Linked DNA regions of Homo sapiens. The protein of the gene in region 7 interacts with the protein of the main gene of each other region in a biochemical or structural test. Each region holds a gene or a part of one and is shown on either strand. Other genes may lie near its edges.

Region 1 (3,500 bases), on a different chromosome or scaffold from region 7:
CATCATCATCATTATTTAAAGCCCGAAATTCTCTTCTGAACATCCTTTTGGCCCCAACCCAGGAATTGTGAAATACAATATTCTAAATGTTATTTTAGGAATGGTCTGTAATTGCAGTTTTGATTCCCAATTTAAACTCAGTTCTTCAGGAGATTTTTGGTGTTATTGTTAATTTCATGTAGTTAAATTTCCCAGATTTAGTGTTGCTGTTCTTACAATTTTTTATTAGAAAATTCCAGTTTAATTGCATCGTGCCACAGGATGTGTCTTATTTTTATTTGTTGGAATTCATTGAGGTTTACTCTGTTAGCCAGTATGTGATGTGACTAAGTGTTTTATGTGTTCTGTGCACATTTGAAAAGAATGATTATTCTGTGTTTTGGGTTTCAAATATGTATATATTCAAATGTGATATTAAAATGCAGTCATTATGGTCAACAAAGAACTGCTTATATGATAGTGGTCCCATAAGATTAAAATACCATATTTTTACTGTACCTTTTGTTACAAATGTTCAGATACACAAATACTTACCACTGTGTTACAAATGCCTACAATAACATGCTGTACAGGCTTGTAGACTAGAAGCAGTAGGCAATACCATATAGCCTTGGGGTGTAGTAGGCTATACCATCCAGGTCTGTTTAAGTACCCTATGTAACGTTTGTACGACGATGAAATTTCTCAGAACTTATCTTCATTGCCATGCAACACATGACTGCATATATATGTAAGCACATATTCAATTTTGTAAGTCATAGAATTCAAGCTCTTTATGTACATTTTGTCTAATTAATCTGAAAAAATCTTAACAGTGGTGTACATTGAAATCTAACACCATATTTGGAGTATATCTCTAATTTTTTTGTTTTACATATTTCGACGCTTTATGTTTACCCAAAGTTTTCTGATTTTCATGCCTTCATTGAGTGCTCTTTTTATCATTTTGTAAAAAAGTAATTCTTGATCTATTTAATAGTTGCCTCAATTTTTATTTTGTCTGACAAAATTAACACTGACACCTCACTTTCTTTTAATTTGCATTTGCACAGTATTTTCCTATCCCTTTATTTGTAACTTTATGTGATTAAGTTTTAAATGTGTCTCTTGAAAGTGGGATATAATTGGACTGGGGAGAGAGAGTTTGTTTCTTTAGGCTTTTTTTGTTTCCCTTTTTTAAACTGAATCTGAGAGTCTCTTTTATTTTAATGTGTAATCTTACTACAGAGCTTAATTGATTCATCTTTCTTCTCACATGTTTTGTTTTTCTTATTATGGCTCCTTAATTATTCCTTTTCTTGTTTTCCAGTCAACTTATTCACACTTTCTTTTCCTTCTTAATGAATCATAGGTTTCATTCATTTTATTTGATATTACTGGTGGCTATGTAAAGAATTTTTCAAAGCAATATTTGAGCCTGTATTTTTCCTCTTCATTGATTGCAAGAATGGCACTATCTGATGCCTCTTCCCTATGCAAGAGGTGAGGTGCTAGGTGCTCTCAGAGTGATTGACTATTTAGGGGACATCATAGATCATTATATATCATCTCTCAAGATTTTTTTTTTTTTTTTGAGATGGAGTCTTGCTCTGTCATCTAGGCTGGAGTGCAATGGTGTGATCTCGGCTCACTGCAACCTCCGCCTCCCAGATTCAAGCCATTCTCCTGCCTTAGCCTCCCGAGTAGCTGGGATGACAGGCACGTGCCACTATGCCCGGCTAATTTTTGTATTTTTAGTACAGATGGGATTTCACCAGGTTGGCCAACTGGTCTTGAACTCCTGGCCTCAAATGATCCACCCACCTTGGCCCCCCAAGGTGCTGGGGTTACAAGTGTGAGCCACTGCGCCCGGTCTAAGATTTATCATTTGCTTTATTTCAAAATCGTATTAACAACCGTCACTGAGACTTAAAATTTGTCTTGTTTTGTGGCCTGTCAATTTTTTTATCATCATGGTCTGCTCCCCCAACCCCTCCAGGCTCTTGCTCTGCCCTATCTTGAACTCCATTCTATTACAGCACTAAACCTTTTCAGTCCCCTGAATGTCCCATGCGCTCTCTAGCTTCCAGGACTTGGTGCAGGCTGCTTCCAATGCCTTCCAAATTTTCTTTTTTTTCTTTTTTTTTTTTAATTTTGTTATTATTATACTTTAAGTTTTAGGGTACATGTGCACAACGTGCAGGTTTGTTACATACGTATACATGTGCCATGTTGATGTGCTGCACCCATTAACTCGTCATTTAGCATTCAATAAACGTAATCCAGCATATAAACAGAACCAAAGACAAAAACCACATGATTATCTCAATAGATGCAGAAAAGGCCTTTGAGAAAATTCAACAACCCATCATGCTAAAAACTCTCAATAAATTAGGTATTGATGGGACGTATTTCAAAATAATAAGAGCTATCTATGACAAACCCACAGCCAATATCATACTGAATGGGCAAAAACTGGAAGCATTCCCTTTGAAAACGGGCACAAGACAGGGAAGCCCTCTCTCACCACTCCTATTCAACATAGTGTTGGAAGTTCTGGCCAGGGCAATTAGGCAGGAGAAGGAAATAAAGGGTATTCAATTAGGAAAAGAGGAAGTCAAATTGTCCCTGTTTGCAGATGACATGATTGTATATCTAGAAAACCCCATCGTCTCAGCCCAAAATCTCCTTAAGCTGATAGGCAACTTCAGCAAAGTCTCAGGATACAAAATCAATGTATAAAAATCACAAGCTTTCTTATACACCAATAACAGACAAACAGAGAGCCAAATCATGAGTGAACTCCCATTCACAATTGCTTCAAAGAGAATAAAATACCTAGGAATCCAACTTACAAGGGATGTGAAGGACCTCTTCAAGGAGAACTACAAACCACTGCTCAAGGAAATAAAAGAGGATACAAACAAATGGAAGAACATTCCACGCTCATGGGTAGGAAGAATCAATATCGTGAAAATGGCCATACTGCCCAAGGTAATTTATAGATTCAATGTCATCCCCATCAAGCCACCAATGACTTTCTTCACAGAATTGGAAAAAACTACTTTAAAGTTCATATGGAACCAAAAAAGAGCCCGCATTGCCAAGTCAATCCTAAGCCAAAAGAACAAAGTTGGAGGCATCACGCTACCTGACTTCAAACTATACTACAAGGCTGCAGTAACCAAAACAGCATGGTACTGGTACCAAAACAGAGATATAGACCAATGGAATAGAACAGAGCCCTCAGAAATAATGCCGCATATCTACAACTATCTGATCTTTGACAAACCTGACAAAAACAAGCAATGGGGAAAGGATTCCCTATTTAATAAATGGTGCTGGGAAAACTGGCTAGCCATATGTAGAAAGCTGAAACTGGATCCCTTCCTTACACCTTATACAAAAATTAATTCAAGATGGATTAAAGACTTAAATGTTAGACCTAAAACCATAAAAACCCTGGAAGAAAACCTAGGCAATACCATTCAGGACATAGGCATGGGCAAGGACTTCATGTC
Region 2 (3,500 bases), on a different chromosome or scaffold from region 7:
ATGAAAAGGTGTAATTTGTTTGCAGGGTCCTAGACTTCCTGAGACCTAAAAATGTGACCTTAGGCTGAACGCTGTGGCTCACGCCTGTAATCCCAGTTTTGGGAGGCCAAGGTGGGCAGATCAAAAGGTCAGGAGTTCGAGACCAGCCTGGCCAGCATGGTGAAACCCTGTCTCTACTAAAAATACAAAAATGAGCCAGGCGTGGTGGTACGCGTCTGTAGTCCCAGTTACTTGGGAGGCTGAGGCAGAAGAATCGCTTGAACCCGGGAGGAGGAGGTTGCAGTGAGCCGAGATCGGGCCACTACACTCCAGCCTGGGCGACAGAGTGAGACACTGTCTCAAACAAAAACAAAAAAAAAGTGACCTTAATGCAAATTAAAATTAGCAAAGAAACCAAAAGGTGGAGAACTAGACCGTCATTACCAGGTTCCCTTACTGCACTGCCACTGTTTCCAAAAAAAAAAAGGGGGAAGACAACAATTCAGAGTGAGCACTAAAGAAAGCATTATCCAATAGCCATAGGCTCATTTTTCAGGCTAGTGACCTAACAATTTAACAAATAAACGCGAAGCTAAGCCTAAGAAAAAACTAATCAACGAAATAACATTTACCTTTGGAGTCAGCATTTGGGAACAGCCTGTTCCATGGCACCTTATTTTTGTGTGGAAGAGAAAGCAAATAGTTCCTAGCTTTTAAATTTATTATACAATTCAGGTCTTCTTGTGATGGGGATCCAAGAATACCTATCAGATAAAAAAATTAGCTATTAGTTATCAGGACCAAGGTAAATGACTACACACCATCAACTCTGAGTCGGAATGAACCCTGATAATTGATATGAGCCGTTGCTTATCACCACTCCTGATGTTTACCTTTCTTATGTTTTTACACAAAAGTCCTTAACATTTTAAATCAGAGAAGGTTAAAAATTCACACCTACCACAGGTTAAAGAGTATATTAGAACTCTTCTTAATTTAATGAAGTGACTTTGATGTAAGCTGTACAAACTTGAGTAAATCTAGCTCCTGAAGGGCTCGGGAACCTTACCCAAAATGTGGTTCAGCTGGTCAAGATAATGCTTCCCTGGAAAGATGGGCCTGTTAGAAAGCATTTCTGCCAGAATGCAGCCTACAGACCAAATATCAATGGACTTGGTGTAGCCCTGCAGGAGAAAGAGAGAAAAGACTGAAAATGGTATCTGGTGTTACAGGACATGATGAGATCTTCCTGTATGACAGGTGCATTGCTGATGGGACTCTGAACTTCTCCTTTGACTCTACAATTCAGAAATACAAGTAAACAACATGGAAAAGCAAAAAACAATTTGGCTTTCTTATGAGAGGCTGAACAACCAAGATTATGTGATTTTATTTTTCTCTTCATAGTTGATTAACTTGGGCTGGGCACAGTGGCTAATGCCTGTAATCCCAGCACTTTGGGAGGCCGAGGCGGGCGGATCACTTGAGGCCAGGAGTTTGAGACTAGCCTGGCCAACATGGTGAAACCCCATCTCTACTAAAAATACAAAAAAATTAGCCGGGCATGGTAGTGGGTGCCCGTAATCCCAGCTACGTGGGAGGCTGAGGCAGGAGAATTGCTTGAACCCAGGAGGCAGAGGTTGCAGTGAGCCAAGATCGTGCCACTGCACTCCAGCCTGGGTGACAGAGCGAGACTCTGTCTCAAAACAACAACAAACCCACAAAGTTGATTAACTTATTAAATTAGAATTTCCAAAGTATACATCCGTCCTTTTTTGAAACAATTTGAGAGACAGATTTAGAATTGTCATAAATTGGAGCTGGAAAAAGAAAAAAGGTCTAAAAACCTTTTCTGGGTTTGGGGGAGTGTGTGCTAGCTCCATCATATTTTACCAATCTCTTCTAAAATATTCTCAGCTGGGCATGGTGGCTCACGTCTGTAATCCCAGCACTTTGGGATGCCGAGACGGGCGAATCACCTGATGTCAGAAGTTCAAGATCAGCCTGGCCAACATAGTGAAACCCTGTCTCTACTAAAACTACAAAAATTAGCCGGGCGTGGTGGTGGGCACCCATAGTTCCAGCTACTTGGGAGGCAGAGGCAGGAGAATTGCTTGAACCTAGGAGGCAGAGGTTGCAGTGAGCCGAGATTGCACCACTGCACTCCAGCCTGGGCAACACAGGGAGACTCCATCTCCAAAAATAACATAACATAACATATAACATAACATAACATAACATAACATAACATAACATAACATAACATAAACATAACATAAAACATAACATAACATATAACATAACATAACAAATAAAATAAAATAAAAGAATTCTCATCTTCTTTTCCTATTCATTTTTCAGGAATATGTTTTCTTTTAAAGGAATCCTGTTAGAAGTCATGGGAGGATACTTTGGGAGGCTGAGGTGGGAGTACTGCTTGAGGCCAGGAGTTTGAGGCTGCAGTGAACTATGACTGCAGTTGCACTGTTACACTCCTAATAGCAGCATGTGAAAGAAAATGCATTTCCTCATGTCCTCAACAACACTGGGTATTAACTAATTATTATTATTATTATCATTATTATTATTATTTTGCCACACATGGTGGCTCACACCTGCAGTCCCAGCTACTCGGGAGGCTGAGGTGGGAGGATCACTTAAGCCCAGGGATTGGAGGCTGCAGTGAGCTGTGACCGAGCCAATGCATTCCAGCCTGGGTGACAGAGTGAGACCCTTTCTCTAAAAATTAAAAAAAAAAAAAAAAAATCATGGAAGGATTCTGTCTGAATCATAACAATGGTGCAAAAAAGATGTTTCTCCAAGGAATATAAGCTGACTCTTTTAAAATTAAGAGATGGTGTCATCACTCTGTCACTCAGGCTGAAGTGCAATGGTGTAATCATGCCTCACTGCAAATTCAACTTCCTTGTCTCAGGTGATCCTCTCACCTCAGCCAGGTCCTGAGTAGCTGGCACTACTGAGTAGCTGGCACACAGTAGGTGGGCCACAGGCATACACCACCACACCTGGTTGATTTTTAAATTTTTTGTAGAGAAGGGGTCCCACTATTTGCCCAGGCTGGTTTCAAACTCCTGGGCTCAAATGATCCTCCTGCCTCAGCCTCCCAAAGAGCTGGGATTACGGCATGAGGCACCATACCTGGCTCCAGAAGTGCCTTCTAATACAATGAAGTGCTTTTCTGGTATTCATGTTAAAAATGCATGACCCAAAACTGAGGGGCATTCTACAAAATAGCTCATCTGCACTCTTAAAGGAGACTAAAGAAACACAACAACCTGTCTCTATGAAAAGCACAAAAATAAATAAGTAAATCAGCCATGAGCAGTAGCACGTGCCTGTAGTCTCAGATACTTGGGAGGCTAAGGTGGGAGGATGGCCTTGAGCCCAGGAGGCGGAGGTTGCAGTGAGCCGAGATGGTGCCACGGTACCCCAGCCTGGGTGACAGAATGAGAACCCGTCCTTTTTTTTTGAGACGGAGTCTTGCTTTGTCACCCAGGCTG
Region 3 (3,500 bases), on a different chromosome or scaffold from region 7:
CAAACTTTCTCCATATCAGCAATAAGGCTGTTTCGCTTTGTAAATCATGTGTTCACTGGAAGTAGCACTTTTAATTCCCTTCAAGAACTTTTCCTTTGCATTAATAACTTGGCTGTTTGGCACGAGAGGCCTAGCTTTCAGCCTACCTTAGCTTTCAATATGCCTTCCTTACCAAGGTTCATTTCTAGTTTTTGATTTAAAGTGAGAGACATGTGGCTCTTCCTTTCACTTGAATACTCAAAGGCTATTGTAGGGTTACTAATTGGCTTAATTTCAATACTGTTATGTATCAGGGAATACGGAGGCCCAAGAAGAGAGACATGGGGAAATGGCCAGTGAAGTAGTCAGAACACACAATTATTAAATTTACTGACCTATAAGGGCATGGCTCGTGGCACGCTAAAACAATTACAATAGTAACGCCAAAGATAACTGATCACATGTCACCATAACAGATATAATAATGAAAAAGTTTGAGATGCTGCAAGAATTACCAAAATGTGACACAGAGACATGAAGTGAGCACACGCTTTTGGAAAAATGGAGCAAACAGACTTGTTGGCTACAGGGTGACCACAAGCTTTCAATTTGTAAAAATAAAAATGAGGTATGCTTTTATTTTATTATATTTTAGTCTTGAATAAACCCCTTGATGCCAAGAACTACATTTTATATTCTTTATATAAAATGACAGCACCTAGGCCGGTGCCTTACATATAATAATCTGTTTTATAAATGTTTTTGTAATAAATATGCAAATAAATCTTTTTCAAGATAACTTTTTTTTTTTTTGAGATGGAGTCACCCAGGCTGGAGTGCAGTGACACAATCTCAGCTCACTGCAGCCTCTGCCTCCCAGGTTCAAGCAATTCTCCCGCCTCAGCCTCCCAAGTAGCTGGGATTACAGGTGCCCGCCACCATGCCCTGGCTAATTTTTGTATTTTTAGTAGAGATGGGGTTTCACTGTGTTGGCCAGGCTGGTCTCAAACTCCCACCCTCAGGTGATATGGCTGCCTCAGCCTCCCAAAGTGCTGGGATTACAGGAGTAAGCCACCACGTCTGGCCCAAGTAGTAGAGAACTTTACATGGAGTGGAATTGAAGAGTCTTTAATAAGAGGAAGAGACTGGTGGAAAGGAAGTTCTAATCTTTTCATTTAGCCATTGCACAGACATTTAGTGGACACTTATGTGCCAGACACTGTGCTAGGCCTTAAGAACAAAGATTCAGAAAAATAATCCCTGCACTTTGAGGTACAGTTACATGAAACATGATCATCGCTGATACAGGTGCTTCAAAAACACCTAAAAAGGGGGCTGAGGGAGTGAGGTTTCCAGGAGGAGGCAAAGTCTTACACTAAATCTGGAAGAAGGAACGTGAATGCCAGCTGAAAGGAGAGTGGGAGCGCAGGCTGGATAATGGAAGGGAGGTGAAAGAAAGATATACAGCATTTATAGGACTGTAATAAGCTGAGAGCTGTTAGAGCATGCAGCATGTACGTGCAGGGTGAGAGGCAATCATGAATAAGTATACAAGAAAAGGTCTGATAAGGCTGCTCATGAATTTTGAGGGCATAATACATACAGTGGTTTGGGTTCTGCCTCCCAACTCCCAAGAGTAGAGGGCAGTATAACCCAGGAGCTAAGAGAGTAGGCTCTGGAACCAGAGGACCTGATTTAAAATCTTGGTTCTGCCATTTTTTAGCTGGGTGACTGGGCTAGTTACCTAATCCCTCTGGGTCTCCGTTTTCTCATCTGTAAAATGGGAATGATAGTCCTATCCCCTTAACATTATTGTCACATCTAAATGACTTAAAACACTATGTGCATGCAGAAAGAGCTCAATTTTTTAAAAAAGCTGTTACTACTACTCTAAAGTTCTAACATAAAATGCAAAGACAGTAGGACAGTATTTCCTCAGCTCCACTTATATTGGGGAAAACATATGGGATCTAAGACTCAATAGCTTCCTTTGCATGAATTCTACAGCCATGTTACCTGGATTCAAAGTTTAGCAAGGTAATTTGAGCAACCTAAGTAACCTCTCTGTGCCACAGTTTCCTCATCTGTAAAACAGGAATAGGAGTGGCGCCAGGTGCGGTGGCTCATGCCTGTAATCCCAGCACTTTGAGAGGCCGAGGTGGGTGGATCACCTGAGTTCAGGAGTTCGAGACTAGCATGACCAACATGGAGAAACCCCGTCTCTACTAAAAAATACAAAAAATAGCTGGTTGTGGTTGTGGGTGCCTGTAATCCCACCTACTTGGGAGGCTGAGACAGGAGAATTGCTTGAACCCAGGAGGCAGAGGTTGCAGTGAGCCGAGATCATGCCGCCGTTGCACTCCAGCCTGGGCGACAAGCAAAACTCTGTCTAAAAAAAAAAAAAAAAAAAGAGGAATAATAGTAGCTACCTCATAGGGTTGTTGTGAGGCTTAAATGAGGAAATGCATGTAAAACACTCAGCACCACACCTCAAATGTAGTTGAAAGAGTAAGGAGAGCGAATATATATATTGCATTTATTATATGTGCCAGTCATTGTTTTAAATGTTTTTCACTCATTAATTATAATTATTCTTCCTCATATGCATAATGGTACTAGCGCCTGAAGGTGAGGGTTTCAACACTTTTTTCTTCAATCTATGTAAAAAGATGATAATACTTTCTGCCTTTAGCTACATACGTGAGAAGTAGGCTAATCAAAGTAAAAAATATTGTATACCCTTGGGAAGAGAGGGGTCACAGAAGGTGGAAGGTGATCAGATTGCGTCATCCCTGAAGTCCCCCTGGAAGCCCAGCCCATGTCCATCCAGCCTTATGGGGAGTTCATTTACCTTCAGGGGCAGTGGTGTTTTCAGAATTTTCCCTGCCCTGGTCGGCATGGTTGGCAACTGCACTCCCGCTCTTTGTCCTTCGAAGAACACTCAAAGCTCGATTTATTTTTTTAAATGATCTGCTTCTAATAGTGGATCTCTCAAAGGGCCGTGCTGAGGAATAGCGACAGGAGGAACAGTAGTTATGATTTAATAGAAATAATCATTTATGTACATATCTGATAAGATATACACAATAAGACATTAACAGTGACTACCTCTGGGTGGTAGGATTGTAGAATTTGCTTACCTGTATTTTTTAAGTTTTCTACAGTGAAATATGTACGACGTGCTTAAAATCCTGCTTTTCTTTTTTGTTTCTGGGCTGAACTGAATACAATACCACTTTTCTTGAGCAGCATGGCTGAAAAATTACTGACACTGCAGGAGTGATGAATCATTAGGTCTAGTTTCAGCCCCTTTCACCAAGTCAGATTACACACAGTTTTAATGATTGGAGGTACTTGCGGTTTCATTTCACTTTGGCGAATTGGACATTGGGTTCCTGCCAAAACTACCAGAACGATTTCCCCTTAAAAAACATTTACAGAACTTTCCACAGTAAGTATTCCACAGAGGGCAATCGCAAGCCAAGGAGCCCATTCCCGGACAACCACCCATTTGACTCACC
Region 4 (3,500 bases), on a different chromosome or scaffold from region 7:
AAGGACTGAAAGTCTGGGATAGGACAGACAATTACTTTCATTTTATACTTGTTGACATTATTTGCTTTAAAAAAGTTAAACCATGTACATTATTACTTTATAAATTAAAAACTCTAGTAAATAATTAAAAACAGCCGACCACCCATGGTCCTGATATAAGGACCCAGGCCTGCGACTCAGCTCTTGAGTCTGCTTATCTCAAAGAGGTCATAGGCACTTCTGGTAGCCCATAATAAGATAAAGTGAATTTCACCACATAAGCATGGTGCTAGTTCCTATTAATTTCAGAGAGATGAGTATAAATTGTGGGAATTAGGGTAAACTCAAGAGGTTTTCGACTAGAAGTACTTTAAGCATCACAGCATTCTGCATTTTGCTATGCTAGGCAAAAAACAAAAACCAATTCCCTCATCCCCAAACACAAACCAAATGCAAAGACCACTTTGATTACTTGTGGAGTAAATGGGGGGCAAAGGAAAAGTGAGAATGGGGTAGCCAAGCTGATAGCAGGCACACAACGAATATTTTCAGAAAAGTACAAATTACCATAATGTAAATTAGGGATTTCAAAGTACCTTTTTTCTGCTATGTCATGCTTTTAGAAGAAGCTGTATATAAAAAATGCATCCAAATTTGTTTCTATGAATCATACAGTGGATACTGCACAGTGAGTTTGTGATACCATTTAATATCAAGAACTTGGTCCAAATATTTGATTTTCATTTGGACACTATGAAGATATGGCTATTTAATTAGCAATGTTTATTTTAATCTTAAGCAATGCAAGAAATTAAAATACCTTGCCAACATTTAATTATGAGAATTCAAGTGCTATTTTGTAACAATGCCTTGAGAAGGTCAAATTTAAGATTGTTTGGCTATCATATGAATTTCCCTTTTAGTACCGGGAACCTAAGACTTTGTAGAGTGCTGCTCACAAATGCCTGGTGTTTGCTGTCCGTTTCCAAACAAGGAATCAACAATGTGATACTTCCTTGAAGGAAAAACACCTGCAGACAGGGCCAAATAAATCATAAAAGGTGCTTCTTTCTTTCAGCTTTGACAGCCTTCACTTGCATTTCAAACTGAGAGTTTCAGGCTGTTTTGAGTGCTTTGAATAGGCAACCACATGTTTGTCACACGTGTGTCCTTCATGCATGAGTTCCTCATTGTCCTGTTCCTTCTGACCCACCCATGCTGAAGCTTCGATGTTTACACTCGCCAGACATTTAGTGAGCAGATGTTGGGCTACAACACTACCACTGGGTTAGGTAGTAGTATTATCCCATTGTAACAGATGACATGGCTGAGGCTCATTGACTTTCAGTGTCCTAAGTCCACAAATTGGCAAATGGGAAAACCAGGGCTTAGCCTGATCCTTTTCCTTTACACTCTTTTTTCGAGATAGTATCCTCTTTATCTATGGCCCCTTCCCTCCCTTCTCTCTCTAGGTTCACTGGTCATCCAGAGCAAAGCAGCAGAGGTGTGGAGAAGGGGCCCTGTGCTTTACCCCATTCCCTTCCCCACAGAAAAGGTAGAGGGGAAGAAACATTCAGGGCTCAGAGCTTCTACCACACTTGGCACTGTTCCTATTTCCATACTTTGCCCGGGACACTCAGGCCAGAACTTCAGCCCTCACCCTGTTCTGTAACTTTCTTCCCAGATCATGGGAGGCACTATGGGTAATTGTTGCTAGTGCAGTTCCTGTAGTAGCAGAAGTGTCCTGAACAGCATCATTCCAAACTGTGAAAAGATTTTTCTACAGCAGCACAGCTCCCACAGCTCTCACAGTTCATGGTCCTTCTGAGTATTGTCAAGACTGTGCTTGGGCTTAGTAGGGGTTGAACTGGCTTCCACCTGCTAGCCTGGAAACCTAAGCACGATTAAAAGCGTTGCTTCCATCGTAAAAGCAGGTTTCTTAATTAAATCAATGGGAAACCAGTTTGAGTTCTCCATGACCGATACATGAATGAATTTTTGAAACAAAATACATTCATAGTTGGGGATTTAATCTTTACCCTCCAACTTTCTATCAATATGTCTGTAAGACTGAAAGAACTATTATTATTGTGTTTAATACAAAATAGAAAAAGACATATTCTGAATTCAAAAACAAAGTTTCCTTTAATTCATGTTTTTCTCTCTCACTCTTTAAGCTTTATTTTTTAAAGTATAATTTCATTCAACTCCAAGGAAATCTGCATTTTAACAATATTATTAAATGATCCTACTATTTTACCCACATATTTTATTGCTGAGCCAGTGTTTGTCTTACCTCCTCGATGGATAATCAAAGAAGTTTCACTTCCAATGGGACAGTCCTTAAGTATATCCACTACTTCTGTATGGCTCAGGTTCTGTACATTCTGCTGGTTGATCTCAACAATGAGGTCGCCTTCACACAGGCCAGGGCATCCCTGAATGTCAAGTATTTGTTTCACCCGCTGTCCTGTAGGACTGTCGGCAATAGTGAAGCCGAAGCCCTGGGCACCTTTCACAATGGTTAAGGTCATAAGTTCAGCTTGGGTGGCCCCAGATGAAGCCATAGACACATTGTCATCATGGACGGGCGGTGGATACGTGCCGTCTAGCTGACCATCAGTTGGCATGGAGTGCAGAGAATGAGGCGGCCGATCTGTTATATCTGGAACTGACTGTGAGGTCCGAGAAATGTACTCCAAATATGTTTCATAGTTGTGTCTTCCATTGACCATCACTGGAGGTGGCCTCTCCATTATTGCAAGGGGTGGCACCATGCTGTTAGCAGGGTCTTCAGGATCAAAGGGCAAAGGGTAGCCACGACACAACACCAGGTTGACACTCTGACCAATAGGAACAGACTGGAAAAGTTTGACAACATCTGCATGAGTGTGTCCAAGGACACAAACTTCATTAATATAGACAATGACATCACCTGTAAGAAAAAAAGAGATTGACAACATGAGGTAAGTTCAATTAACATTGACATAGAGAAATGGAATTATTTACGAGACTAGTGAGAGGTGTTGTTTCTTAGTAAGCAGTGAGAAATCAATTAGAATAATACTTAAAATCACTGTGGGTGACTCAAGGTTACAACAGGACTGCCAGCAAATACAATGATGAAGTGCTGAAAAAAAGCTATTTGGTTATTCTTGAAGTTCAGAAACAACTTCATATTCAGAAACAAAGGCTCTGAAAGAAAAGGTTAGAGGAATGTGTACCTTGAAGAAGCACATTCTCTATGCTTCTTTTTCATCTTATATTCCATCTTCAGTGTAATTCAGTTAATATAATTTTCGAACTATTGAGAAGTAGTGGTCATGAGTTTTAGACGAAAAACAAAGCCCTAGCATATTTTTTTTTGTATAAGTTGAATAAGTCAATTGCCTTTTTTCTTTTTTATGGAACAGAAAAATATTTGCCCATTTATTTTTTTCCATCTATAGCAGGTAATTACAAAGCTTCCATGTATATGCGAGCAAAGGTCAAGGGTGCAGGTTTTGGGATTAGGGAGCTGG
Region 5 (3,500 bases), on a different chromosome or scaffold from region 7:
CCAGGCTGCGCATCACTTTCACCTGGGGGTGGGGGAAGCCAAGGAAAGCTGGTGGTTAACTTCTCACTGTCTTCCTTACCTCTTCCCTCCAAGGAATCAGCTTGACAAGTGTTACCACCTGTATCTCCTACCTCCTATCTTGTGATATGACAGGGCACTAAGATCAGGATGAGGGAAGACCACCACCATATAGATGGAGATGGCTTCATAGGCCTTACCCTTGGAACTGCATTGGGAGAACTGGGGTGGGAGTGGCCAAGTGGCTTGGAGGGCAATACCCAGACCACAGGTGTCCCCAACTTAAGTTACTCCATGAAGTAACTTGGGAGGGGTAGTGAAAACTGTAAATGCCCAAGGAGTGTGAGTGCTCAGGGAGCTCCCCTCCAGGCTCCCTTAGCAGGGCGTTCAGGTGAGGATTATAACATTGAGTTGTACTAAATTGGAGTGTTTTCATGTCCATCATCCTCATAACCTGAGAGCTCTTCTGAACCCTGTATCTTTTGTTACTGCATCCCTTGTACCCTGTTTGTGTTGCTTTTAGTAAGTGTTCATTGAACAAATAATTACGCTGTAATTTAGAGGGAGTGGGATATTCCTCTAGGGCTCTTTTCTGCTTAGTCTTTAAGACAGTAATTCCAAACTGTATTTTCTCTTGAAGCCATTATTTGTAAGGTCTTCTCTCTTCCAATGGTGACACCAACCTCCCGGGCCCCCTCCATCTTCTTACCTCAGTCAGAAAAGTTTTCTGGGTCTCCTCATCACATCGAATTAACTCTTTCATGACCATCACTTTGCCCGTGGCTTTGTGTGTCACCTACAGGGAGGGTGACTGTTAATGGTGCTGAGACCAGAGGAAGTTCTGGAGAACTGTTTGAGAAAATCTATGCAGCTGGCCATCCCATCCCTTGGAGGGCACACTGAGCCGGGTCAGAATGACAGAGTTCATGTGTGGAAGATGCAGCGTGGAGCAACATGGGACTCACACGGAAGCAAACCCTCTTTCCTGGAGAGCTGGGCATGCACAGAGGACAGGCAAGAACCCAGAAAAGGGAAGTGGGGAAGAAGGCAGGAGGGGATGCTGCCAAGCCAAGCAGGGGCTCTGGTCATTTGGCATAGAAGTGAGTCTCCTGAGTGAACAGAAGTCTGGGGGCAGGAAGGTCAGTGCCAAAGACATGCACCAGGGAGCTGGGTGGATCGGGGGTGAGCTCTCCAGCCCTGCTGCCCCCAAGCTGAGACACACGTCTTACCTGACCCCCCCTCCCAGTTCTCAGCAGAAGAGGAGGAGGAGGAGAGAAAGAGAGAGGTTAGTCCCTGAGACTGTTCACCAGGGAGGCAGGAGCCATTCCCCTGTGTGCTCCTTGTAGCATGCCCGGTACTGAGGTCTGCAGGCACCTAACAAACACCCACTGACTGGAGGCAGGAGGGCCACAGGCACAGCTCAACCCAACCTGGATCTCCAGGTCCACAAGCTCACTGTAACAGCAACATTGACCTTAGGTGGCCTGGGTGGGGGTGAAGGATACCTCTCACACCAACACCCAAAGCCAGGAAGGAGGCCTGGCATCCTGCATGGTGTGGGGTGGGGCCAAGTGATGAGAAATCCCCGAAAGACAGTGACAGAGGGACTGGGGGCAGAAGAGCAAAGCAATTGTTGCCTGCGCTCACCTTGATAGCCTGCCCAAAGAAGCCCTTCCCCAGGACCTCCCCATGGATTAGGTCACAGGGCCGGAAGATCTGCTGTGAATAGCTGCTGGAACAACGAAGGGATTCTGAGCGGCTGATGTCACGGCTGAACAGCAGGGGCTCCTTTGGGGAGCTGGGGCCAGGGGACTTGGAGATACTGTTACTGCGCCTGAAGATGAGGAAAGACGGGAGTAGGGATGTGTAGTCCTCAGAGACCGGCCAAGAAACCCTGGAGGGAGGAAACTTAGGGGCACCTGTTCATTCCAATGTCTATAGTTTAGATGTTATTATTGGGGAACAGGGGCTCTTACATCAGATGTATCATTTTGGGGTTGCTGACATCAGTCATTTATTTAAGCATAGTAAAAACACATTCAAAATGGGAACTCTGCATACATCACACATAGAACAATTAACTAGATTCTACTAGCTGATAATGCTCAGTATGTGACATATATGACAACACTGTAGATGGTAATTCACCATCTCCCATATCTGCTTGATTTAAGTACTAACTGGTTTAGAGTGATAGTTATACTAGTATCCAAAAAATGAGCAAATGGGATTTTTTTTTTTTGAGACAGAGTCTCGCTCTGTCAACCAGGCTGGAGTGCAGTGGTGTGATCTTGGCTCACTGCAACCTCTGTCTCCCTAGTTCACCTGAGTCTCATGCCTCCGCCTCCTGAGTAACTGGGACTACAGGCATGTGCCACCAGGCCCGGCTAGTTATTGTTATTATTATTATTTTTGAGACAGAGTCTCGCTCTGTCGCCCAGGCTGAAGTGCAATGGCACGATCTCGGCTCACTGCGACCTCCGCCTTCCAGGTTCAAGCGATTCTCCTGCCTCAGCCTCCCAAGTAGCTGGGAGTATAGGTGCACGCCACCACGCCCGGCTAATTTTTTTTTTTTTTTTTTTTTTTTTGATGGAGTCTCACTCTGTCGCCCAGGCTGGAGTGCAACGGCGGGATCTCCACTCACTGCAACCTCTGCCTCCCAGGTTCAAGAGATTCTCCTGCCTCAGCCTCCCAAGTAGCTGGGATTACAGGCGTGTGCCACCACAACCGAATAATTTTTGTATTTTTTTAGTAGAGATGGGGTTTCACCATGTTGGCTAGGTTGGTCTCGAACTCCTGATCTCGCGATCCATCTGTCTCGGCCTCCCTAAGTGCTGGGATTACAGGCGTGAGCCACCACACCCGGCCCTAATTTTTGTATTTTTAGTAGAGATGGGGTTTCACCATATTGGCCAGGCTAGTCTCAAACTCCTGACCTTGTGATTCGCCCACCTCGGCCTCCCAAAGTGCTGGGATTATAGGCGTGAGCCACTGCGCCCAGCCTAATTATTGTATTTTTAGTAGAGATAGGGTTTCACCATGTTGGCCAGGCTGGTCTCAAACTCCTGACCTCAAGTGATTTGCCCGCCTCGGCCTCCCAATGTGCTGGGATTACAGGCGTGAGCCACCGTGCCTGGCCAGCAAATGGGATTTTGGATGATATTTTGCACATCTTTGTACCTGTCCATGTTTCCTGAATTTTAAGATGATAAACACGTATGATTTTTACAGCAATAAAGTCACTATGTTTACATTTTCAAAAGCGGTCGATAATAGTCATGGTCAATGACTGTTATTTTCACTTACTGAAGAAGGAACAAGAAGGTTGAAGTCCACAGCACTGCAGGTGAACAGCCCTGCGAACTTTCTCTCTGGGGTATGCTCCTGCTTTACTTGGGCTACCCAGAGAGGACTGACGCTGGATGGCTCTTGGCTTGTCCCGACCTACAGGTTTACTTACCCTTGTCCTTTTGCTCTGCCTC
Region 6 (3,006 bases), about 130 Mb from region 7:
GGAGTCCAAGGGAGACCTACGTTCTAACCCCCGTTCTACCCAAGCTACTGTATTACCATGGGCATCAAAGTCTTAGTGCCCTTATCTATGAAGGAATTTTAGTTGCTACATGGTATTTTCTGGTTCCCCATCACCTTCACGAAGTCAAATCTCCTGGAAGACCATTAGACATGGCCCTTGCCTCACTTGCCAGACCCGTTTCTACTTTGAATTATCTTTGGTTCCTTGACTATGCCAGGTATACTGCATGTGCTAAACGTTGCCTGGACAGCCTTTCTTATGCCAACCTCCACTCTTCCACACCCAGCAAACTACTACCTATCATCTATTCTTCATGTTTGAGCTCAAATGTCAAAGCCTTTGGGAAGTCAAGCTGGGTTAGGTGGCCCTCCCCTGGTGGTGGAAACTGTTTTATTCACCACTATATTCCCAGCAGCAACACAGGACCTAGTTACATGTGGGTTGACCGAAGGAAAACAAGCAAGCAAAAGACATAAAGATGGTTTCCAGGAGCATATATTACACAGGTCTGAGTGCAAGAAATGGCAAACAACTGCTATGTTTGCTTTAAAAGCTCATCTGGAACCAATGCCAAATCCCGATGCTTTTGATGGCCCCCTGGTTCTTGGCCCCTCCTGAGGCTGGGCTCAGACTTCTGGGTGAGGGGGCAGCCTCGGCATGGAACGTCCTGCCTTCTGTCACCTGAGGCATCAGGCACTTGGGTGATGCTCAGGGCTGGATCCTCTTTCACTGCTTGTGCACACTCAGACTCCCATAGCCAGCCCTGGCTGGGATCCTCATAAGATGGATGGGCCAGTCTGGGGGCACTAGGTGGCTGTGTCTTCCCCTGCTCCCTGGGAGACAGGTTCTTAGGCTGGGCTGGAGTTGTGTTTTCCAAATCCTGGAGGTTGGCTAGCCCACCTGCCATGGTTGCCTTTCTGCTTGGGGATGCCCTGTCTGGGCCCTCAATAAGGGATTTCCAGGACCACATGCTCAGCTTCCCAGAGGTGGAGCTGGGAGGAGAGCAACTGCTGGTGGGGGTGAGTCCCGAAGTGCTGGGAGAAAGTGCTGTTAGTGCCTGGGTGTGGAGGTGCTGGGCCTTCCAGCAACCTTCAGGAGGGATGGGGTCTGTGGCTCCAGACTGACCTAGGTTGGGGCCTGCTGAGGAGGAGCTGGCAGCCTCCTCAATGGCTTGTGGGCTCCCGAGCCTCCTGTGGGGACCACTGGGACTTTCCATTCTGGGAGGCCCCAGTGTGATCCCTGTCAATAGGCTTGGGACCATTGGGCCCAGGCTCCTAGGGTCTCTGGACGGGAAAGGATCCTCTTCCCCACTCTCTCCTGCTCCTTTAGGGGCCACACTCTGGCTCACTTCTGGGTGAGGTGCCAAGCTCAGCTCCTGTGCACCCTGGCTGTTCTCAGGCCCTTCCTCGGTGTCGTCCTCTGAGGAGTCCACCTCACGAATGGCTTCTTGCTTCTGCAGCGACTCCCGTCGTTCGGCTCGGTCCTGCCGGAGGGTGCCTAGGGCCCGTGAGGGAGCAGGCTGCAGCACCCCCTTCCCTGGCAGGGCCCCCTTGCCAGACAGCACACTCCTGGCTCCAACTACCTCCAGAGGGCTCACTTCCCTGGGCGGCAGTTCCTTCTTTAGTTCAGAGTGGGGCAGGTCAAGGCTGTGCTTGCGAGAAGTGGCTAGCTTCTTCTCAGAGGCGGCAAGTGCTGCTGCCAGTTTCTCAGCCGACTGCACCCTCTTGAGTAGTGGTGAACGGGGTGGCTCCGCACTCTTGGGCCGTGAGAGTTGCCTGCCCAGGGGAGGTGACAAGTGAAGCTTTGTGGGAAAGGCCTGGGCTACATGGCCAGACAGGGGCGATGGGGACCGCTGAGGTGAAGCTGTTGGGGGTGGGGGAGAAGGGGTGTGGGCCAGTGGTGACAGTGGGATGCTGCCTGCTGACTTGCGCCGTGGAGAGCGGTACTGGCGTTGGAGCTTGGGTGCCAGACCGTGGAGGGAGCTGGGCCGTGTGTGCCCAGAGCCGGCTGGGGAACTGGGCACGCTGGAGCTGGGGGAGCTGCTCTGTGATGAATTCCCTCCCACTTTGTACAGAGACAGACAGACAGACAGACAAAAGCAGAGCAGTGTTAGCTGTTAGAAGTGACTCAAGGGCAAGACAGGGCTTAGCCCTGTTATGTCCCAGAAACCAAGCTACCCCCTTCCCCATCAATTAATTCCTCCCCAAGACTACAGGATCTTTCAGGGGGTGGGCTAAATGAGAGACTCAGAGTGGGATCTGTCAGAAGCACACAGGGCCTAGGAACTTTCCTATTTCCCAGGGGTTGTCACTGATCTGCAGGGAGCCCTTCGTACCTGAATGCACAGCATCGGGGGTCACCCGGTAGCCTTGAGTGGGAGATCGGGGGGAAAGGCTGTGGCTGTGTGTGGGAGAGCCTGGCCCACTCTCCCCTGATGACAAGGAGCGGTTAAGGGAAGAAAGGCTGCGGCTGGTGTGGAGCAGGGATGCTTGCTTGGTGATCTTGCGGAACAGGGAGCTCCTTTTTCTGCTGCGGGGATAAGGGTCAAAGGCTGAGTCGGTGCAGTGAGCACAGCACACACTGGACCCCCAGGGCCAAGGCACCCACCACGTACCAGCACTCATGTGGCTCAGAGAAAACCCTCTTCACTGCGCCTGGCTCACCTTTCTTGCCCATCCTTGCCGCGGCTCCTCTTGCTCCTTCGGGCCATCTTGGCCTTGTAGCTGCCCTTCCGAGCTGGCCCCACTTTAATGGATGTGTTCTCCAGGGGAGTTGTTGAAATGGCCACCTTGTTTCCACTCTGGGGAGCAGAGCATGAGGCCTAGGCTAAGCTGGAGCCATATTCTTGCCCCTCCCCTCCCCCAATCCTTCCCTTCTGGCATGGCTATACCACAGCTCCAGCTTTTTGTCCCTGCACCAACACATCTGAACCACAGGCCTATATTATTGTTTTTACAGATGAGGAAATGGCTCCCATTGGAGCCC
Region 7 (3,500 bases):
GTTTCAGTGTCATAGGAGGGCTTCCTTTAAAAAGAAAACATATACAACAATGGGGAAACGAAAGCACCGGAAGATACTATCATTCAGGTTGTTAACACTGGCAGGAAGTAGAGGGATAAGAAGGAAGACAGAGTACCCAAAGATATTTACAATCAAAACGGCACGCACAAATTCATCTTAATGAAAACAACACACACGTATCAAGCATGCACACACTTGGTGCACGAAAGAGGTCATCAAAATAGTTAGGGGCTATTTTTAGGCACAGGGATTTCCCATGATTTTTTTTTTTTTTTTTTTTTTGAGACAGTCCTGCTCTGTTGCCCAGGCTGGAGTGCAGTGGCGCATCTCGGTTCACTGCAACCTCCGCCTCCCAGGTTCAAACAATTCTGTCTGCCTCAGCCTCCCGAGTAGCTGGGATTACAGGCACATGCCACCATGCCCGGCTAATTTTTGTATTTTTAGTAGAGACAGAGTTTCACCATGTTGGCCAGGCTGGTCTCAAACTCCTGACCTCAGGTGATCCGCCCGCCTCAGCCTCCCAAAGTGCTAGGATTACAGGCGTGAGCCACCCCACCTGGCCTCCTGTGATTTTTGACAGGTAAAATAAGAATTTGATTTTCTAACTTGTTTTCATTTTTTAAAAGCATGTTTCCTCATAATTTGAAAAAAAACACTTGAGGGAAAATCATAAACATTACACATGGATGTACCCTGAAGCTCATGTATTTTTTAATTAGAAAAACTCTCCTCTTAAGCCTGAGATACACAGATCTGGGCCTGGGTCTTGAATTAATTTAGTCAGTACCTTTAGAAGATGAACTGACCTAGAACGCAAGTATCATTGAATACACATTTTTAAAAGGTCATTATTAAGAAGGATAAAAATATTTTATCTTTTTCACTATAAACCAGTGACAATGAAAACTACGCATCAGAAGCATCTGAGAAATTTAAAACATACAGGGGTACCTAAGCCCCTCTCAAACTACCGAAACAGAGTATCTGGGAATGGGCACAGTTATTTGTATAGAAGCACAACTGCGCCTAGGGTTAAGAACCACACTAAAGAGCCAACCCTTAACTACAAAGACCTTAAAAAGCAACTTGCTGGACGTGCCCTCTTCAGGTAGTTTGACAGTTGAAAGCAGAAATACATTATCCATAAAGACAAACTATTAAAAATCCATGATCTCAAACAATACACTAAAATTCTTTAAAAAAATGGAAGTAGACTCACTCTTTTTCTTTGCACTCCTTTTCAACCTGGGTCAGGTAATCCCACCTTGTGTTTTCCACTTTCTTTCTACACAATATAAGAACTGTATCAGTCTTGACCTGGAAGAAAAGCAGGAAAACAAATACAGCTTAGAAGACATGGAGATAAGCATGAATATTTATAAAACAATTATCTATTCAATTGATCAAGTCCCTAGTATGTATAGACTTATTTTGGGTGCCAGTAATACTTGTATGAATAGGCCAAAATCTGAACATTCATGGTGTGAAAAGACCATAAATAAGTAAAACTTGAATACCCTGATATCCTGGAAAGTGCTATCAAGACAAAGCGGGTGTTAATGGGGGGTGGGGGCAGGAACTTCATTAGGAAGGCCTCTCTGAGGCAAATCTGAGCCGAAGCCTAAGGTCAGGAGAAGGCAGTTGGCAGAGCATGCAGAATGGCTCCAAGATGGGATCATCTTGGTGTGTTTGAGGAGCAGGAGGAGTGGCTGGATTTTAGTGACTGAAAAAGACAGTAATATAATAAGAGGGGTCGGGGATAGGCAAGAAACCAAGTCGTATAAGGCAGTATGGGGCAAGGTGAGGCATTTGAAAGTGAGAAAGAAGGGCAATGTACAGGTCTTTTAAACAATGATCAATACTAGGGATCTTTTGGTACTCTACCTATGGGACTAGCGGATGCAGAAGGGTGCAGTAAGACAGCGAATCCAACTATATTTGAGTATCACCTGTAAGCTGTTAAGTAATTATGTATTATAAAAACAGATGGCAGAATGTCATGTCTATATACCTAACGCATTAAACTTCATTTATTCACATTAGGCAGAAAACAGGGACTATCTGATTTAGTAAAAATTACAAAGAGTAGTTTTTAAAAGACAGTTTCCTTATTTTTATAGCTGCTTCTAACTCCAAGGAGGCTAAGTGCTTAAGACCTCCTTTTATGTATACGAGTATTATGCACAATGCTAACACTAGCATTAATTTAAGCACTTTACATAATGGTATTGCACTTCAGTGTATCATTTCAACTTTGTGAAATAAATTATTACTATCGCATAAATGCAGAAACTGAGGCACAGAGTGATTAAGCTGCCAAAGGTCACAAACAATAAGCTGTAAACCTGGCATAAAACTCAAGTCTCACTCTTAACTACCTTCAAACGTTTACTTCCTCCCTGATTTTAATGGAATATTCTTACAATAGCCTATTCTACAAAAGGAGTTGGCAAATGTTCTCTGTCGAGGGCCGCATAGTAAATATTTTAGGTTTCATTTAGGGCCATATGGTCTGCTGTAGCCACTTAACTCTGCCATTGTAGCACAAAAGCATCCACAAACAACACATGAACAAATAAGCCTGGCTATGTCCCAATAAAACATTCACAAAACAGGCGGTGGTCCCTGTTACAGAGGACAAATTCATTCCAGTTCATCTCAGTTCTAAATCAGCCAGGTTCAATTTGGTAAGGTTTCACAATATTACAATCAAAAAAAGCACACTCACTTTTTTTGAACTGCCTTCCACAGAGATGGGTTTCAAGAGATTGTTCACAATCATGGAGTAACTCTTCCCATTTAGATTCTTTACCAAAAGATCAAATGACCTGCAACACAATGGTGAATACATCATCTTTCTAGTTCTATGAAAGGTACCCTTACTCCATAGTTCTTGTGGGAAAAAAGCTGCTGGCTTTATTTCAGGGTGTGCATTTGGCCAGTTAACGCTCACCTCTTCAAAGTAGTTGTAAAGGATAATTAATTCTAAATTTAAGAATTTTAAAAACTGCAAAGAAGAGAGTCTCAAGATAAGGCAATGTTGACTGTTAATTCACTGTCTTTCCCATTATAATGAGAACTCACCTCTCTGTGAAATGCACCTGCACATTCTCAGTGGGAACTTGATGAACTCCAGTTAAGGTAATGTAGATTTTCACAAACTTATCTGACTGATCCCATCCTGGCAACGACAACAAAAGATGGGACGTAAGTAAGCCTCTGAAACTATCTTTAGAACAGCAAATGCACATGGCTCATAAGTCAGGAAAGTAAAATTATGAAAATCCAGTCATATAAACATGAAAAAATTTGAAATATAAGAAATTTTCTAGGTTGAGAAATGGAGCCTCAAAGCAGTTAAGTACTCTACCCAAAGCTAGGCATCTAACAAGTGGTAGAATTCAGATTCAAATCCAGGTTTCTGAATACAAAACCTATGCTCTTTTTATCCCTCAGAATAAAAATATGATCACTAAATA

The links.
Region 1: the proteins of CACYBP (region 7) and IL16 interact in a test that uses a peptide from one of them, tested with the Homo sapiens proteins (one large-scale study listed by IntAct).
Region 2: of the proteins of CACYBP (region 7) and MAPK1, one has a biochemical effect on the other in vitro, tested with the Homo sapiens proteins (2 studies listed by BioGRID).
Region 3: the proteins of CACYBP (region 7) and LNX1 interact in a test that uses a peptide from one of them, tested with the Homo sapiens proteins (one large-scale study listed by IntAct).
Region 4: the proteins of CACYBP (region 7) and MAGI2 interact in a test that uses a peptide from one of them, tested with the Homo sapiens proteins (one large-scale study listed by IntAct).
Region 5: the proteins of CACYBP (region 7) and LIMK2 interact in a test that uses a peptide from one of them, tested with the Homo sapiens proteins (one large-scale study listed by IntAct).
Region 6: the proteins of CACYBP (region 7) and MAST2 interact in a test that uses a peptide from one of them, tested with the Homo sapiens proteins (one large-scale study listed by IntAct).

What each region holds. Positions count from the first base shown.
Region 1 is NC_000015.10:81,203,379-81,206,878, reverse strand, and holds part of IL16 (pro-interleukin-16), read right to left. Parts: intron 1-3,500. UniProt on the Homo sapiens protein: Interleukin-16 stimulates a migratory response in CD4+ lymphocytes, monocytes, and eosinophils. Primes CD4+ T-cells for IL-2 and IL-15 responsiveness. Also induces T-lymphocyte expression of interleukin 2 receptor. Ligand for CD4.
Region 2 is NC_000022.11:21,787,646-21,791,145, forward strand, and holds part of MAPK1 (mitogen-activated protein kinase 1), read right to left. Parts: intron 1,164-3,500; coding exon 1,049-1,163; intron 744-1,048; coding exon 612-743; intron 1-611. UniProt on the Homo sapiens protein: Serine/threonine kinase which acts as an essential component of the MAP kinase signal transduction pathway. MAPK1/ERK2 and MAPK3/ERK1 are the 2 MAPKs which play an important role in the MAPK/ERK cascade.
Region 3 is NC_000004.12:53,504,487-53,507,986, forward strand, and holds part of LNX1 (E3 ubiquitin-protein ligase LNX), read right to left. Parts: coding exon 3,500-3,500; intron 2,984-3,499; coding exon 2,831-2,983; intron 1-2,830.
Region 4 is NC_000007.14:78,253,668-78,257,167, forward strand, and holds part of MAGI2 (membrane-associated guanylate kinase, WW and PDZ domain-containing protein 2), read right to left. Parts: intron 2,915-3,500; coding exon 2,276-2,914; intron 1-2,275. UniProt on the Homo sapiens protein: Seems to act as a scaffold molecule at synaptic junctions by assembling neurotransmitter receptors and cell adhesion proteins. Plays a role in nerve growth factor (NGF)-induced recruitment of RAPGEF2 to late endosomes and neurite outgrowth.
Region 5 is NC_000022.11:31,264,298-31,267,797, reverse strand, and holds part of LIMK2 (LIM domain kinase 2), read right to left. Parts: intron 1,853-3,500; coding exon 1,666-1,852; intron 815-1,665; coding exon 728-814; intron 23-727; coding exon 1-22. UniProt on the Homo sapiens protein: Serine/threonine-protein kinase that plays an essential role in the regulation of actin filament dynamics. Acts downstream of several Rho family GTPase signal transduction pathways.
Region 6 is NC_000001.11:46,033,617-46,036,622, reverse strand, and holds the end of MAST2 (microtubule-associated serine/threonine-protein kinase 2), read right to left. Parts: intron 2,822-3,006; coding exon 2,685-2,821; intron 2,551-2,684; coding exon 2,357-2,550; intron 2,086-2,356; coding exon 557-2,085; 3' UTR 501-556; downstream 1-500. UniProt on the Homo sapiens protein: Appears to link the dystrophin/utrophin network with microtubule filaments via the syntrophins. Phosphorylation of DMD or UTRN may modulate their affinities for associated proteins. Functions in a multi-protein complex in spermatid maturation.
Region 7 is NC_000001.11:175,006,447-175,009,946, reverse strand, and holds part of CACYBP (calcyclin-binding protein), read right to left. Parts: intron 3,203-3,500; coding exon 3,106-3,202; intron 2,850-3,105; coding exon 2,750-2,849; intron 1,339-2,749; coding exon 1,241-1,338; intron 25-1,240; coding exon 1-24. UniProt on the Homo sapiens protein: May be involved in calcium-dependent ubiquitination and subsequent proteasomal degradation of target proteins. Probably serves as a molecular bridge in ubiquitin E3 complexes. Participates in the ubiquitin-mediated degradation of beta-catenin (CTNNB1).